Linked DNA regions of Homo sapiens: all the other regions are linked to region 1. A link means that fine-mapping ties the variant in region 1 to the plasma level of a protein whose gene starts in the linked region. Region 1 holds a variant in brackets. A gene starts in each other region. All regions are shown on their reverse strands. Region 1 overlaps PNPLA3 (patatin like domain 3, 1-acylglycerol-3-phosphate O-acyltransferase). Region 2 holds the start of ACY1 (aminoacylase 1). Region 3 holds the start of SORD (sorbitol dehydrogenase). Region 4 holds the start of PCBD1 (pterin-4 alpha-carbinolamine dehydratase 1).

Evidence for each region. A credible set is the group of variants that fine-mapping cannot tell apart. PIP is the posterior inclusion probability: the model's chance that the variant is causal. The UK Biobank Pharma Proteomics Project read protein levels with antibody pairs (Olink). The fine-mapping took linkage between variants from a reference panel, not from the people measured, so its PIPs are less certain.
Region 2: it holds the start of ACY1, and the variant in region 1 is the best candidate, but not a certain one, in a credible set for the plasma level of the ACY1 protein (UK Biobank, PIP 0.53).
Region 3: SORD starts here. The variant in region 1 is the best candidate, but not a certain one, in a credible set for the plasma level of the SORD protein (UK Biobank, PIP 0.64).
Region 4: PCBD1 starts here. The variant in region 1 is the best candidate, but not a certain one, in a credible set for the plasma level of the PCBD1 protein (UK Biobank, PIP 0.59).

The regions. Positions count from the first base shown.
Region 1 is chr22:43,927,063-43,931,062 of GRCh38, reverse strand. It overlaps PNPLA3 (patatin like domain 3, 1-acylglycerol-3-phosphate O-acyltransferase), which reads right to left. Exons shown (of 9, transcript NM_025225.3): 2 at 3,896-4,000; 3 at 2,174-2,239. Among named protein-coding and RNA genes, the nearest start is that of PNPLA3, 5.3 kb to the right of the region's middle. The variant C/T (reference allele first, on the strand shown) is at 2,088.
Region 2 is chr3:51,981,189-51,985,400 of GRCh38, reverse strand. ACY1 (aminoacylase 1) reads right to left here and starts at 1,866. Exons shown (of 15, transcript NM_000666.3): 1 at 1,812-1,866; 2 at 1,243-1,354; 3 at 130-194; 4 at 1-40. The coding sequence starts at 1,336. It overlaps ABHD14A-ACY1 (ABHD14A-ACY1 readthrough), which reads right to left. Exons shown (of 17, transcript NM_001316331.2): 4 at 1,243-1,354; 5 at 130-194; 6 at 1-40. ABHD14A (abhydrolase domain containing 14A) reads right to left here. Exons shown (of 5, transcript NM_015407.5): 5 at 4,205-4,212. RefSeq lists a silencer at 1,832-2,281 and an enhancer at 3,735-4,212.
Region 3 is chr15:45,020,500-45,024,711 of GRCh38, reverse strand. It overlaps SORD (sorbitol dehydrogenase), which reads right to left and starts at 1,517. Exons shown (of 9, transcript NM_003104.6): 1 at 1,363-1,517. The coding sequence starts at 1,428. RefSeq lists an enhancer at 148-798 and a silencer at 1,568-1,737.
Region 4 is chr10:70,886,011-70,890,222 of GRCh38, reverse strand. PCBD1 (pterin-4 alpha-carbinolamine dehydratase 1) reads left to right here and starts at 1,658. Exons shown (of 4, transcript NM_000281.4): 1 at 1,658-1,692. The coding sequence starts at 1,690. RefSeq lists silencers at 1,542-1,791, 2,122-2,401.

The DNA.
Region 1 (4,000 bases):
CTCCGCCCCCCGGGTTCACACCATTCTCCTGCCTCAGCCTCCCGAGTAGCTGGGACTACAGGCGCCCGCCACCACGCCCAGCTAATTTTTTTCGTATGTTTAGTAGAGATGAGGTTTCACTGTGTTAGCCAGGATGGTCTCGATCTCCTGACCTCATGATCCACCCACCTCGGCCTGGTACTCCCCCAGTTCTGACAACCCAAACTGTCTTCTGATGTGGCCAGACATCCCCAGAGGGGGTTGGGGAAGGATGCAAGACTAGCAAGTGAGCCGGCACAGACCCAATGCCTACTCCAGAGCCTGCAGAACAAACACTCCTGCTTCGGCTTCTCCATCCCCCTGGCATGGCTCAGAAATCAGCCAATGCACATATTCACTGAACTCAGCCAAATCTGAACACTGCCAGCAGCTTTTGAACAAAGCTATGGGCTGAAAAGGACAGAGTAGGACCCAGAGGGCTTGAAACTCTCGACCAGGAAGGAAAGCCAGAACCGTGCACTGGGGAGCCAGAGAGCATCACTACGGTGCTGCTGGGTGCACTCCTGCTGAGTTCTGGGGAAGATCAAATAACCACATAAAGCCACCAGCATAACAAGGGGTTGGGGTCCTGCTGATGCCCAACCATGCTGTGGCAATGTCGGAAATCCAAAATATGCTTTGGTCACTCAGTAGCTGGGCACTCCAGTGGCTCCGTGGACCACTATCCTGGACCCCAAACTACAGAGAATGAGAAGAGCCGCCCTGCAGTGAACCAAGACATGCCCTGTTCTGACAGAGGAGCAGAGAGTGACCTGGGTGCAAGCTCGCTGGCCGTGCTCTTTGGGCAAGTATGACTCTCAAGTTCCCCACAGCCACACAGGATGAATAATCACATCTCCCCTTGGTTGTGGGGACCCTATAAGATAACGCACAGGAGCACGTAGTCTGTAATGGGAGGCTCCTAATGCGAGTCCCTCTGCCACGTGGCTCTGCTGGTGCTACATACAGGATTGCATCAAAGGTTCCGCTGCTGCTCTTGTGAGTTCAAAAATTACCCTAAAAGGCTAGTATTTTACAGCCTAAACTTCCTCCTGTGCATCACAAAGTGGCAAAACAAAACAAAGCACAAATCTAGGTTAGACCAGGCTGACAGATTTTTGTTGTTGTTTACAACACATGTGATTGTTGGCCGGGCACCATGGCTCACGCCTGTAATCTCAGCACTTTGGGAGGCCAAGGCGGGCGGATCACCTGAGGTCAGGAGTTGGAGACCAGCCTGGCCAATATGATGAAACCCTGTCTCTACTAAAAATACAAAAATTAGCTTGGCGTGACGGCAGGCACCTGTAATCCCAGCTACTCGGGAGGTTGAGGCAGGAGAATTGCCTGAACCTGTGAGGTGGAGGTTGCAGTGAGCCGAGATTGCACCACTGCACTCCAGCCTGGGCGACAGAGCCAGACTCCATCTCAAAAAAAAAAAAAAAGAAAAGAAAAAAATATATATATATGACTGTTATAGTTCCCCCTAAGAGTAAAGCTCCACCTTCCAGGGGTAACAGATTCTTCAGTGTCATATACTTTATTTACCTTTTTTTTTTTTTTCTTTTTGAGATAGAGTCTCGCTCTGTCACCCAGGATGGAGTGCAGTGGTGCGATCTTGGCTCACTGCAACTTCCGCCTCCCAAGTTCAAGCAATTCTCCTGCCTCAGCCTCCCGAGCAGCTGGGATTACAGGTGCACACCACCATGCCCAGCTAATTTTTGTATTTTTAGGAGAGACAGAGTTTCACACTGTTGGCCAGGCTGGTCTCGAACTCCTGACCTCAAGTGATCTGCCTGCTTCAGGCTCCCAAAGTGCTGGGATTACAGACATGAGCCACCGCGCCTGGCCAACATCATATAGTTTAACTAGATCACTGAGAAGCTATCTGATGCTTAAGGTGCAGATTAAGTGAACCAGCCAGTTTACCTTACAGATAGCCAAATAATTAATTACACATGCAGTAAGTTTTGCTGCCCGGGTAGCCTGGAAATAGGGCCAGCTGTGGCTACTCTGTCTGAAAGGCAGTGAGGCATGGGGCTCCACCATGGGACAGACCCTGAGGTGCC[C/T]GACACCAGTGCCCTGCAGGCAGGAGATGTGTGAGCACACTTCAGAGGCCCCCAGGACTCAGCGCTAGCAGAGAAAGCCGACTTACCACGCCTCTGAAGGAAGGAGGGATAAGGCCACTGTAGAAGGGGATGAAGCAGGAACATACCAAGGCCTGTGAAAGCAAAGGAGAGAGAAGTTATAGGCGAGAGCACCCTTTTAATTTTCCTGATCCTTCATAAGCTTTCTCCAAGTGAGCAGGGCAACAAACTTGAAAATGCCCTTTGCACAGAGTAGGTTAATCCATGGGTCAAAAGAACGGGGAACTAACATACACCCTCGGACTTCAGGCCCATGGGTCTCATCTATTGCATAATCCCCTTAACAACCCTGTCAGTGAACTTCAACTTCCTCTCCTTGCTCCCCATGAGAGTCACACTGGGTCACCACAGACAGGACCAAGGGTTGTTGGCTCATGGACTGAAAGGGGCTAGATCGGTGCTGTTCAAATGCCGGTATTCATTAGCATCACCGGAGAGCCTGTGGAACCAGAGATTCTGCGTCCCTCCCCAGAATTCCCATGCAGCAGGTCAGAGGTGGGACCTGAGGGTCTGCCATTCCAATAAGCTCAAAGGAGCTGCTGCTCTGCTGGTCCCAGGATCACACTTTGCGAAGCACTGTGCTACAGAGCAGTCAGCAGGCACCACGGTGATTCACTGGGAGAACGGACCCATGTGGGAACAGACAAGTGCTGGCTGTTTAGAGAAAGCTTCCGCAAACAAGGTTAAACAGAGGATGCAACTGGCTGCAGGTTAGACGCGCCAGGCTGCTGTCTTGCACAGATCTGTCAAGTAAATGGAGTCCTTCCTCCAAGGAGCGCTTATGAAAGCATCAGCTGAATTTAATGGTGTTTTGGTATTACAAATTATCTTCTCTCTGCTAGACCCTGAGGATACAGGCAAATAAGGCACGTTCCCACCCTTGTAGGGTTTCCAGTGAGAAGGCATCTTCATTATGGAAGATGCATAGAGGAAGCTCGGGAGAGGCACACCTGCAGGACAGGTTCCTTGGACTGGACGGTCATGAGCCAAGTGTTGAAGGAAAGGGAGGAATTATTTGAAATTGTAACTGCCAGGCAGAGGTGGGCAGATTACTTGGGTGCAGGAGTTTGGGACCAGCCTGGGCAACAGGGCAAAACCCCGTCTCTACAAAAAGTACAAACATTAGCAAGGTGTGATGGCCTGTGCCTGTAGTCCCAGCTCCTCGGGAGGTTGAGATTGCGCCACTGCACTCCAGCCTGGGAGACAGAGCAAGACTCTGTACCCCGCCCCCCCACCCAAAAAAAAGAGATAAAAAGTGAAGAAAAGAAACTGCCCTGGAACATTCAGGGTTTACAAACATGGACCAAATCACTGGAGGTGTACAGAGTTTATGTCACTCTGGCACAGGGGGCCTACAACTGCCTGTGTTGCTTCCAAAACAAAACAGTCTTTCTTTTTTTTTTTTTTCCAGACAGCATCTCACTGTCACCCGGGCTGGAGTACAGTGGCATGATCATGACTTACTGCAACCTCCACCTCCCAGGCTCAAGCAATTCTCCTGCCTCAGCCTCCCTAGTAGCTGGGACTATGGGCCCACAACACCATGCCTAGCTAATTTTTCTGTAATTTTTGTAGAGACTGGGTTTCATCATGTTGGTCTCGAGCTCCTGGGCTCAAGCAACCCACCCGCTTCGGCCTCCCAAAGTGCCGGGATGACAGGCATGAGCCACCACACCCATCCCAAAACAGCTTTTCTAACTTGACAACGTCCAGATAAGCAAACTGCTTACATCCACGACTTCGTCTTTGGACCGAAAGTCAGACACCAGAACGTTTTCCCCATCAGACACTCTGGTAAGAGAGATGCCTATTTTGCCGGAGATGAGCTGGTGGAC
Region 2 (4,212 bases), not on the chromosome of region 1:
CTGGCCAGGTCAACACGGTCACCACATAGCCAGGTGCCACCTGGAGATGGTCAGGAGGGTAGGTGGTCTGAGCAGGGTGAGGAAGTGCCCAGGCCCACCTCCCTTCCCCGCTTAGGGCCCCAGGCTCACCTCTACTTTCTGACAGCCCAGGCCCAGCTGGCGGGCTGTCTCCTCAAAGAAAGCCACAGCAGCTCCTGGAGGCACAGAGTGTCTTGGGGCTGCTTCTGCCTACCCACAGCTTCCCACCAGCCCAGGCAGCCCGGAGAGTGGAGCATACCCAGAAATGGGCTGCTGCCTCCCCGACACACTCCATATCCCTCAGAGATGCTTGCATTTCCATCCCCAAGAAAGAAGATATTTTTGGCTACTCAGTGACCCTTTCTGGAAGTCCAGGGGGATGTCTGGACACAGGGTTGGAGGAAGGTGTTATCTTCCTTAAATATGGGAAACTATGGCACAGAGACATGAAGAGATTCACCCACCATCTCTCAGCTGATTAATCACAGAGGAGGAATTTGGACCCATGTACACAATTCCCAGCCACTAAGTTTTTTTTTTTTCTTTTCCTTTTTTTTTTTTTTTTTTTGAGACAGGGTCTCACTCTGTCACCAAGGCAGGAGTGAAGTGGTGCGATCTCGGCTCACTGCAGCCTCAACCTCCCAGGCTCAAGCGATCCTCCCACCTCAACCTCTGGAGTAGCTGGGACTACAGGTGTGCCACCATTCCTGACTAATTTTTGTATTTTTTCTGTAGAGACAGAGTCTTGCCATGTTGCTCAAGCTAGTCTTGAACTCCTGGGCCCAAGCAATCTGCCAGCCTCAACCTCCTGAAGTGCTGGGATAACAGGCAGGAGCCACCTCCCAGGCCCTAGCCACCAAGCTTGACTCCCTAAGGGCTGTGGCCTTTGTCCAGCCCCAGTGGGCTTCTGGAGGGCCTCTCCTTTCCCTGTGGCTGCCTCAGGCTTCCCCCACCACTCCTGCCCTGGAGAGTGAGGTGAAGTTTTTCTTTAACCAGCTGCCAGGAGTAACCTTGGTCAGCAGCAGAGTCTCTGGGGAAAGGGTTCCTCCCTAACCTGGAGGGGCTGCCTCAGTCTATTTACTTGGGGAATGGCTGGAGGGGTTGGGGAGCCATTTGGGACAGCAGAGTGGGGCTCAGCTGGGTGACAGGGGTTGGAGGCTGGTTTAGAGCACAGTCCCCGTCCCTTAGGCCCCGTCACAGGCTCTGGAACCACCGTCTTCTCACCATAGTCAGGCTTGGGCTGGACAGTGCGGATACGCAGGTACTGGCGGAAGAGCGTCACCGATGGGTGCTCCTCCTCGGGACCCTTGCTGGTCATGGCGCTGCGCGTGGTGAGCTGGGGGCAAAGTGAATGGCTAACTACCCCTCCAAGACCCTGGAAATGGTGAGCTCCTGCACACAGCCTGTCCCCACGGCGGCTCCCGGACTTCCCACAGGGGTAGGATACCGTGTTTCGGAGCCCCCATTAAGGAGCACCCATTCTGTTTCAGGCGCTGGGCTGTCTGCTTCCAGCACATTTCCTTATTTAATCCCCAAAAGAGCCCCATGAAGTTTGTGCTCAGAATGCCCACTTTACAGAGGAGAAAGCTGAGAGGCTCAGAGAGGTTCAAGGACAGCTCATAGAGTAGCTGAGCAAGGTTTGAACCCAGACTTGTACTCCCCCCGCCCTCCTAAAAAAAAAAAAAGGCAAAAACAAAAACAAAAAACAAACAAGAAAAACCCCAACGCCTCCCAGTTGCCCGGCTTTCAAGCCACGGAGCCCCAGTCCCTCTATCCCTCCCCAGGGCCCCCACCTCACTCTCCTGTCGCTGGGCTCACGCTCGCCTCTCAGCGCCCTTCCCTGACTGTGGCCTGGACTTAGGGTCCAGCGAGGTCGCCTGCGAGGTCGCAGGCTCAGGACCGCCCCGGTCCGCCCACCACGTGGCCGAGGCCGGATGTCGGGGCGGAGACCGAAGACCGTCAGTGAGGGCCGTCCCGGCGCCAGCGGCCGCGTCGGCGCGGATGTCCCCGCCCGCCTCTGGTTCGGGCCTCAGCGAGATTACTGGAGGATTAGATCCGGATCCCGTCCCCGGGCAGCGGCCGCCGCGGCCAGCGCCGCCCCGCGAGTTGCGAGCTCCGGGCTGGCCCTGCTCTGACAGGCTCGCCCCGCCCCACACGACACGCCTGCCACTCCTGCCCCCAGGTATGCGCCGGGAGCTCAGGACGGTCCCGTCCCCTAAGGGCGCCTCCTCCTTCAGCCCCCGGATAGGGCGGGAGGAAAGGGGGCCGCCCCGAGGCTCTCAAGATGCAGAGCTGCAAAGCCCTGGGCCTGCGCCCTCGCCCTCCTCGGCAAGTCTCCAACGGCTCCCCACTGCAGGCCTCAGCCCCTCGGGGAGGTCCTCCCTGACGCCTCAGCTCCACTTGTACTGAAGTTATTGGCCAATGTCTGTCTGCCCACACTGAACTCCAGGAGGCTGTGAGCTCCACTTCCTGCAAGGTTCTGCCCGGGGCCGTGCCGAGCCCGGACAGTGCCTAGAATGGGAATGAATGCATGGACAAGAGCACGTGTGACGGTTTAAGCGTGCCACTGCGTGTGCAGTCTATCAGTGGATATGATTGTGTATGTGACAGTGTGAGATGGTGGGTGGGTGTGATGAAGTCACTGTGAATGGATGTAATTGTGACCCTGGATGGACAGTGTGAGGAAACTGGCTCTTCTGCAGCCACCAGAGGGGGAGGCTAAACAGGCACAGGTGTACCACTGGCCCCCTGCAGGCCACAGCTGCAGTTGCCCACTTGTGCCCCAGCTGCCCTTTGTACTCCCAGCCAGGTCTGCCCTCTGCTCCAGGGGCTGAGTCAGCTTGGGGAAGGGTGAGGGACAAAGACTTCAATCTCTAGGCCAAGGAGGCACGCTGTGGGAAGGGTTCTGTCCCACCTTTCCTGAGGTTTAAGTCTTGGCTGCTCACACATAACATGGGGGCAAATGGACTTTAACTCATAACAATGCTGGATAATTCTTTATTTAGTTATTTTTTTGATACAGAGTCTCACTCTGTCATGCGGGCAAATAGATTTTAACTCACAACAATGCTGGCTAATTATTTACCTATTTATTCATGCGGGCAAATAGACTTTAACTCATAACAATGCTGGCTAATTATTTAGCTATTTATTTTTTTGAGATGGAGTCTCACTCTGCTGCCCAGGCTGGAGTGCAGTGGCTCCTTCTCGGCTCGCTGAAAACTCCGCCTCCTGGGTTCAAGTGATTCTCCTGCCTCAGCCTCCAGAGTAGCTGGGATTACAGGTGCGTGCCACCACGCTGGGCTAATTTTTGTATTTTTAGTAGAGACAGGGTTTGTCATGTTGGCCAGGGTGGTCTTGAACTCCTGACCTCAGGTGATCCACCCGCCTTGGCCTCCCAAGGTGCTGGGATTACAGATGTGAGCCACAGTGCCCAGCTAATGCTGGTTTTTTTTTTTTTTTTTTTTTTTTTTTTTTTTTTTTTTTTTGAGACGGAGTCTCACTCGCTTTGTCACCCAGGGTGGAGTGCAGTGGTGTGATCTCGGTCTTGGCTCACTGCAAGCTCCGCCTCCCGGGTTCACACCATTCTCCTGCCTCAGCCTACTGAGTAGCTGGGACTAAAGTCACCCGCCACCACGCTCGGCTAATTTTTTGTATTTTTAGTAGAGACGGGTTTTCACCGTGTTAGTCAGGATGGTCTCGATCTCCTGACCTCGTGATCCGCCTGCCTCGGCCTCCCAAAGTGCTGGGATTACAGGTGTGAGCCACTGCGCCCGGCCAATGCTGGCTAATTGTTAAATCGCGTTCCCCATACCCTCTAGGTTCCTGACTTCCTTGGCTTGGCTGTCCAGACCCTGGATTTCCCACCAATCCCTGTGGTCATGCAGCAGCAGTAATACACCCCGCCTCCCACCAGCAATTCCCCAGCCTTATGTGGCCAAGTACTCAGTTATCCAGACTCATTCAGTCCTATAACCACCCTCCAACCTAGGTGTTGCCATCATACCCGTTTTACAGATAAGGAAACTCAGGCACAGAGTGGTGAGGCCAGGCACTTAGGAAGTGGCGCATTCTTAGCCTTCTCAGACTGCTGGACATCCCCTCCAGCTCCCAGGCCCAAAGTAGTCCCAGACTTGCCTCCCACTCCCGTCTTTCCCACAGCACACCAGGAAACGGAACCTGTCACTTCCCAGG
Region 3 (4,212 bases), not on the chromosome of region 1:
TGAAGTACTGAGTTGGAAATCACTCTGCAAGCTGGGTAGAGCTGGACCACTTTCCCTTACTCATAATACCATCTGGCATTTGCAACAGTAAACACTAACAGCCTCACTTTAATTCAGGACCTTGGGTGGAGGCTCCAAAGAGTGGAATGAGCACTAGAATGGGGAGTCTGAACATCTGAGTCCTTGTCGTGGCTCTGTTAACTAACAAAACCTATCACCTTGGGTATGGTACTTTCTTCAACTGAGGAGATGGAGAGTCAGCTGGGACAAGGGTTCTATAGAGGGGCTTAGAGCGGCTTAAAGGGAGTCCTTGAGCAGTCTGAAATTGTTGCCAAACTCAGTCTATTTGCATTCTGTGGAGGGGACACCACAGATTCTTAAATAGTCAAGAACTGCTAACCTGGATAAGCTTCTGAATTACTGCAGTTTACATACTGACGCATGTACTTTGAGGGAAAAGAGGTACAGGGGAGCAGCAGAGATGGCTGGCACTCATCCCACATACCCACTGCCATCCCAGGCCCATCTGAGAGGGACTTTGTCAAGGGAGGCTTGGCATGACTAGGCTGCTGACTCAGCCACTTCCTAAACTTTGGTGCCACAAGCCAGGGAGCAAAAGGCAGGGTCTAAGGCAGAGGACACACATACAGAATGCTCCTAAAGGGACAGAGGCACGGGATTGGAAAGAAAAACTGCTGGAAAGTGAACCAGACAGGGTCTTAGGGAGAGAAGGATCCTTACAGACAAGGGAGCTATCAAGATCCACAAGTCTGGCACAGGCAAGGGGAACAGCAGGGGTTCTGGAGATGGAGGCCTAGACTGGAAGGAAAGGAGAAGGAGCTGGCACTTCCTGAGCACGTACTAAGTGCTGAGTACTCTTGTGATCATCATAATCCTGCAAGGGAGGTTTATCAGTCCCAAGCAAGGGAGTTAAATACAAGTTCTGCTGTTTCTAAGTGTCCTCTGGCCCCCCTTTCTCTGCTCTGCACGGTCTGCCCCGATAATTCAGACAGCCTTAGCATTTCCTTTGGAAAGGTCAATGACAAGAGGCTGGACTATGAATCTGCAGCTGGCAAAGGAGAGAGAAAGCTTCATTCAAACAGTTTGCAACCGTCCTGGGCACCGGCCACGTGCCAGCCACGGGGCTAGGTTCCGGGAGGCACACGACTAGATCCCTGCCCTTCGCAACAGCCACTACCTGCTGCCCCCACACCCCGAGGGGAACCAGCTGGGATCTGGGCAGCCAGGGCGCTTAAGGTGCGGGGCCGGCGCCAGGCTGGAAGTGGGAAGCCAGGACTATGGCTGGGCTCAGAGGAGAGTGAGGCAGGATCGGTATGCTTCCCACCCTCCTTCCCAGCTTACCAGGCGCAAGTCCCCCGGTCCGTGCACCACCAGGGAAAGGTTGTTGGGCTTGGCCGCCGCCGCCATGGAGCTCTTTTGGCTCTGGAGTGCGGCCTGGAAGGCGCGGGACGTTTGGTCGCTCTGGTGGCGCTACCCAGCCGAGGGTCCAGGGCACTGGATGGAAGGTGGGGCCTGGGAGAAGCGCCGCACGCAGGGGCGGGACTAGGCTTCCTCCTTTGTGCCAGCCTGGGCGGCGCTAGCGTGGAGGGGCGGGGCTTCCCAGCCTCCTCCAGACCCGGAGGCGGGGCGGGGCTTCGGGAGGGGGCTGGGAGCGAGAAGCCCGGGTGCTGGCTCCATCTGCAGCGCGCTGTTTTTTTTGTTTGTTTGTTTGTTTGTCGCCGAGGCTGGAGTACAGTGGTGCGATCCCGGCTCACTGCAAGCTCTGCCTCCCGGGTTCAAGCCATTCTCCTGCCTCAGCCTCCCGAATAGCTGGGACTACAGGCGCCCACCACCACGTATTTTTGTTTAGTAGAGACGGGGTTTCACCGTGTTAGCCAGGATGGTCTCGATATCCTGACCTCGTGATCCACCCGCCTCCGCCTCCCAAAGTGCTGGGATTACAGGCGTGAGCCACCGCGCCGGCCCTGCAGCGCGCTGTTTTTGCCGCCTCACATGCAAGCACACACGGCTGCCTTGAAAACCGCCTGCAGAGGCAGTAGGCACCAGACCAGCGCTCTCAAACGTTAGCTGCAGAAGAATTGGGGTGGGGAATGTGAGGCGCTGTTGAGAATGCACATTCTCAGGACCAGCACAGAGATTCTGATACAGTAGGTCTAGGTCTGAGGTGCTGCCTGAGGGTCCATATTCCTAGCAACGAGAATGCTGAGGCTGTGGGTGGAGCACGGTGTGCACTTTGCGAGACAGGTGCTACCATGACGCAGCGTCCACGTCGGCCCTTTGTCTCCAGCCCCCAGGAAAGGGCCTGGCACGAGTAGGAGTAAATGAATTCGTGCATCATTACATGGGCCTGGTGCTTAAGTATAAAAAAGACATGAGGCCGGGCGCAGTGGCTCTTGCCTGTAATCCCAGCACTTTGGGAAGCCGAGGCAGGTGGATCACCTGAGGTCAGGAGTTCGAGACCAGCCTGACCAATATGGTGAAAACCCCGTCTCTACTAAAAATACAAAAATTAGCCGGGCATGGTGGCATGCGCCTTAATCTCAGCTACTCGGGAGGCTGAGACAGGAGAATAGCTTGAACCTGGGAAGCAGAGGTTGCAGTGAGCTGAGATCATGCCATTCAACACCAGCCTGGGCAACAAGAGTGAAAATCTGTCTTTAAAAAAAAAAAAGCCATGAAATGGAATTTGTGAACCTCTTTCTCTCAACTGGATCTGCTGCTTCTATTCAAAGCAGAGTTTCTGCCCAAACTCTTCCTTCAAGCCTCTCAGCCCTCTGAGAAACAGTGAGGTTTTACTCTCTGAGGAGAGAGGCGCTTCTAGATAGGCCTAAGTCTATAAGGCCCCTCCCTCCTTTGAGGATAATGCTCAGGATTTCATTCCCTTACAGTCCCCCCTCCCCAATATGTAACCGCCCAATGGATTCACCTTGCCTGCTGCCTAGACAAAACTAATTTATCAAGACAGGGGAACTGCAATAGGGAAAGAGTTCATGCAGAACCAGCTATGCAGGAGACTGGAATTTCATTATTGCTCAAATCCGGCTCCCCAAGCATTCGAGCATACGGGGACTCAGAGTTTTTAAGGATAGTTTGATGGGTGGGGAAAGGCCAGTGAGTCAGGAGTGCTGATTGTTTGGGTCAGAGATGAAATCATAGGGGATCTAAGCTGTCTTCTTGGACTGAGTCAGTTTCTGGGCGAGGGCCACAAGGTCAGATAAGTGAGTTTATCAATCTGGTTGGTGCTACGCCTTGAGGGACCGGTGCCAGTATAGGCTGTATTTGTTCCTTGCTGAGGGCCCTGGTTCCTCTGGCTAAGATTAGGCCTAGATATTTGACTTGTTGTAGGCAGAGCTGGGCTTTCAGTTTAGACACCTTGCCCGCTTGATTACCTAGAAAGTTCAAGAGATCTAGAGTAGCCTGCTGGCATGAGGCTTCCAAATTGGTAGCCAAAAGTAAATCATCCAGATTCCGTTCCAAGATGGCCAAATAGGAACAGCTCCGGTCTGCAGCTCCCAGTGTGATCGATGCAGAAGACGGTGATTTCTGCATTTCCAACTGAGGTACCTGGTTCATCTCATTGGGACTGGTTGGACAGTGGCTGCAGCCCATGGAGGGTGAGCCGAAGCAGGGAGGGGCATTGCCTCACCCGGGAAGCGCAAGCGGTTGGGGGATTTCCCTTTCCTAGCCAAGGAAAGCTGTGACAGACTGTACCTGGAAAATCAGGACACTCTCACCCAAATACTGCACTTTTCCAACGGTCTTAGCAAATGGCACACCAGGAGATTAAATCCTGTGCCTGGCTCAGTGGGTCCCACGCCCACAGAGCCTTGCTCACTACTAGCACAGCAGTCTGAGGCAGCAGCCTGGCAGGGGAGGGGCGTCCGCCATTGCTGAGGCTTGAGTAGGTAAACAAAGCAGCCGGGAAGGTTGAACTGGGCAGAGCCCACCGCAGCTCTGCAAGGTCTGCTGCCTCTGTAGACCTCACCTCTGGGGGCAGGGCATAGGTGAACAAAAGACAGCAGAAACTTCTGCAGACTTAAACGTCCCTGTCTGACAGCTCTGAAGAGAGCAGTGGCTCTCCCAGTACAGTGTTTGAGCTCTGAGAATGGACAGACTGCCTCCTCAAGTGGGTCCCTGGCCCCCATGTAGCCTAACTGGGAGACACTTCCCAGTAGGGGCCAACTGACACCT
Region 4 (4,212 bases), not on the chromosome of region 1:
GAATAAAAGTTAATAGAAAAATGTGAAATGTGAGAGGACTTTTCTAATCTGACTCTAAGACTTATTATAAAGCTATAATAATCAAGACAAGGTAGTGTTCTGTCATGACAGACAAACAGATCAATGGAACAGAAGAAAGGGCTCAGAAATAAACCCACATGTATACAGTCAATTGATATTTTACAAAGGTGCAAAGACAACTCAGTGGAGAAAGGAATAACTGAGTCGCCATGTGCAAAAGTGCATCTGGATCTATAACTTGAAGCATATAAAAATATTTACTCAAAGTGGATCACAGACTAAATGTAAAACCAAAAGCTATAAAACATAGGAGAAAACTTTTGATCTTGGGTTAGGCCAAGATTTCTATGTGTACAACATCAAAATAGAAATCCATAAAAGAAACATTTGATATATTGGATTTCATCAAAATTAAGAACGTTTGCTCTTTGAAAGGCACCATAAGATAATGCAAAGAAAATATTTGCAAATCACTGCCTGATCATGTCCTTATATCCAGAATAAAACACCCTCAAAACTCGATAAGAAGACAACCCAATTTCTTTTTTAATGGGCAGGAAATTCAAACATGCTATTCAATAAAAAAAACTTATCCTTAGCAAATAAGTACATGAAAAGACATTCAATACAATTACTAATCAAGGAAACTCAAAACCACAATGAGATACTGCTACACACCAATTAAAATTTAAAAGGCTGACTATATCAAGTGTTGGTGAGGACAGAGAACTGCAACCTTCATACACTGCTGCTAGGAATATAAAATGATACAACCATTTTGCAAAACAGTATGGCAGTTTCCTAATAAGTTATAAAAGTCCACCTACCACATGACCCAGGCATTCCATTCCTAAGTGTTTACTCAAGGAAAATTAAAACATACGTACTTTCGAAGATTTGTGCACCATATTCGCAGCAGCTTTATTTGTAATAGCCAAAAGGTAAACAACGCAAATGTCCAATAGTGAATCGCTAAACAAATTGTAGTCTATCTGTACAATGCAATACTATAAAATAAATTTTACTTAGCCATAAAAGGAAGAAACCATTGATATAGGCAACAACATGGCTGAACCCCAAAACAGTTATCCTGCCTAGTATATACTCTATGGTCCATTTACATAAAATTCTAGAAAATGCAAACTAATTTATAGTGACCTAAAGTACATCAGTGCTTGCCTGGCCAGGTGGTTTCGGGAGGAAGGGGTTACCAAAGGGCAAGGGAAAACTTGCAGGGATGATGATATGTTCATAATGTTGATCTCGGTGATGGTCTCACGAGGGAAACATTAAAATTTATCAAATTGTACACGTTGAATATGTGCAATTTATTGCATGTCAATTATATCCAAATAAGAGATTTTTATAAAGAAAAAAATAGGTATTCTGGCGCCCAGGGCCACCCAGCTGTAAGCGGCGGGGTGGGATTCCAACCCAGAAGCGGGCATTTGGAGCCCTCATGCTTCACCCTAGCTCCCTGAAACAAGCACGGAGGATGGCTCTGAGCAGCGAGGAAAGTGCTGGAAGCAAGCAGGCCGAGCGCGTCCCTGGCTGGGGACGTTAATCATTACCGGAGGGCGGCCCGAGCGCGGCCCCGCCCCGGGACGGCAGCCTGCGCGCCCGGCCGCCGCCTGCCCTCTCCGCTGGCCACCTGCTGCCGCCCGCGCCATGGTGAGTCCAGGGGTGCGCGGCCGCGATCGGGGCAGCGGGGCCGGGGCAGCCGCGGGCGAGGTGGGAGCGGGAAGGGGCGGGGGAAAGTCTTTTCGAGTCCCCTGCGGAGCCGCCGGGGTCCGAAAGTGGGGTCTCTGCCCGGCTCTCTGTCGCTGGCGGCGGGGAGGGGAAGCTGAAGCCCTGAGAGGGGCGGTGGCGGGTTCGAATCCCACCCAGTTGGGAGGCCAGGCCTGCCCTGACCCCGGCCAGTGCTTGTTCCGGGACCCTTCCGGGGGCGGGGCCTACGACCTTCCTGGGCCGGGGAAGACAGTCGTGGAGGAGTCCACGGATCTCGTCCCCTTGGTGGCCCGATTCTGCTTTATACTGGGGTGGGAGCGAGAGGGAGGCTGAGTTTGCGCGCTCGTGTGCGTGCCTGTCCGCTGCCCCTTCCCGCTGGCACTCTGGGTACGGGGTCTGCCTGGGACTCACGCTCTGCGCCGGTATGCTGGCCCCAGAGCCACTCCCCGCGCCGGCTTGAGGCCCGTGCCAGGCCACGGGGGCTTGGTGGCGCTGGAGCAGCCCTCCTCCCGTGAGCTTCCCCCACCCACCCCCGGGGCGGGGGCGGGGGCGGGGCCCTTGCTCTGCTGTAAGCTCGCGAGCTTCATCAGACCATTTCTGGTCCACAGGCCTTCGGAGCAGGCAAGACTGGGAGGGCCTTTTGATAGGAGAGGGACTTGGGGGAGGGAGGATGAGTGGGGCTGTTTGTGAGGGGCGCTGAGGTCCCAGAGATGCAGGCTTGGGAAATCGGTAACCACTCCCCACACCTCGCCAGAGGAGGCAAACGGGGCAGCGTCCCCCTCTCTGTCTCCAGAGCCGGCACCTGGAAGGTTTGTCAGTTCAGCCGCAGGCTGTGCGACCTGGGGGGTTCCAGAAGGCTCTACCGAGAAAGGGAAGCCTCCTAAGAGCTCACCTGGACTCACCCACCCCTTTAAGAGCCAAGGAAGTAAACAGTGGGCTCTGATGCTTTGGCTGACTTCTGGTTGTCTAGATACACGGACCAGGCGGTCAGCCACGGGGAGAAGGCCAGCTCTGGAGTAGAGACCTACCTACTGGGCAGATGATGCAAATCGCTGCTGCCATTCAATCCCTATAGTCATCCAGAGCCGAGGGGAAGAGAGGGGCCAAGCTACATCAGTCCAGAGAGAGCTCACGTTTTCAGGAGGGAAAACAGCAGGGAAAAAAGACGGACTTAGGAAAGCACTGCGATGCTTCAGCTACCCCAAATGCTACCAGGCCCATCACAAGCCTGCTTGCCTTAGGAAGTTTTTTTTTTGTAATGCAGATGACATTTGCTTTATAGCAGTGGAGTTTCCTAAAGTGTCCCATTGGCACCTCATGATGATCTGTGGAGGTGGAGGTTCTGCCAAGAGAGGTACAGCCACCTGGCTGGTAAATGGTGAAAGCGGGTCTCAAAACTCCTGCCAATCAACACATGGTGTCCAGTCTGCAGGCTGCCTCATAAAAGCTAAATCAACCTCCCTCACATTCCCTCCCCACCCCTAAGGGTATCTTTTCAATTCAGCACTCTATTTCTGCCCTGGGGTGGTGCTACTCTAGAAGCCTAGGTTCTGGGATCTGTTAAGCTCCTAGACCTGGATCCTCCTAGGATGAAACTGACCCTTGCTTCCTTGCTTTCTCTGAGGTTCCACTCATGGCCTGAATTGTGCCAATTTGGGCTGCCTTGAGGGCACTTCGCACATTAGGTAAATAGGATGGGGCACTAGGTTTGCCAGCTGCCTTTGGCCAAGTTCCTTCCACTTTGGCCTGAGCTTCCCAACCAGCCAGAAAAGCAGACGGAAAACCAGAGAAACCTAGCCCTGGCGGCTCAGGACCAGAGGCTGCCTGGGAGCATGACTGAGGACCTACTAGAGGTAGTGCCAACGGCGGTCAGCTGCAGTGTGGCTAAGAATGGGATGGACACTTATTTTAAATGTAGCTCCTTCGTCCAGCCCCAGCAATGCTGACACACAGACAACACTGCGCCATCACTGGCTAGGGGTGGGCGGGAAAGAACAGCAGACAAGTCGTTTCCCCTCTCTAGGCCTGTTTCCTCTTCAATACACGTGAAAGTTACGGTAGGGACGTGGGGTGCATATGATGAAGTACATAATAGGAAAAGGAAGGGGGGAGAGTCATGGGTACTCTTCCTGAGAGGTTGTGGAGTAACATATTTGCATCTGGGATTTATTTTGCTTTTACGCCCTCACTGATGTAATAATCTCATGGAGGGAAGGTCCGTAAGGCTTTGAGGGCAGGGTGGGGGAAGAGTGCTTCTCTGTCCCCGTCATATGAATTACATTGCTTTTGTGATTTCCCTTGTGTGTGTGTGGAGTGTTAAAACCCAAGACCTGAGGGCCTATCGGCAGACGAGCCTGGACCCCACCTCCTGGGCAGGGTGCCACCCTTGAGGCCTCCCAGCCTATTGCTCAAAGACCTGCTGCCCTTTGGTCACCCACGTCCAAAGCAGCCAGTGGAAGCTAA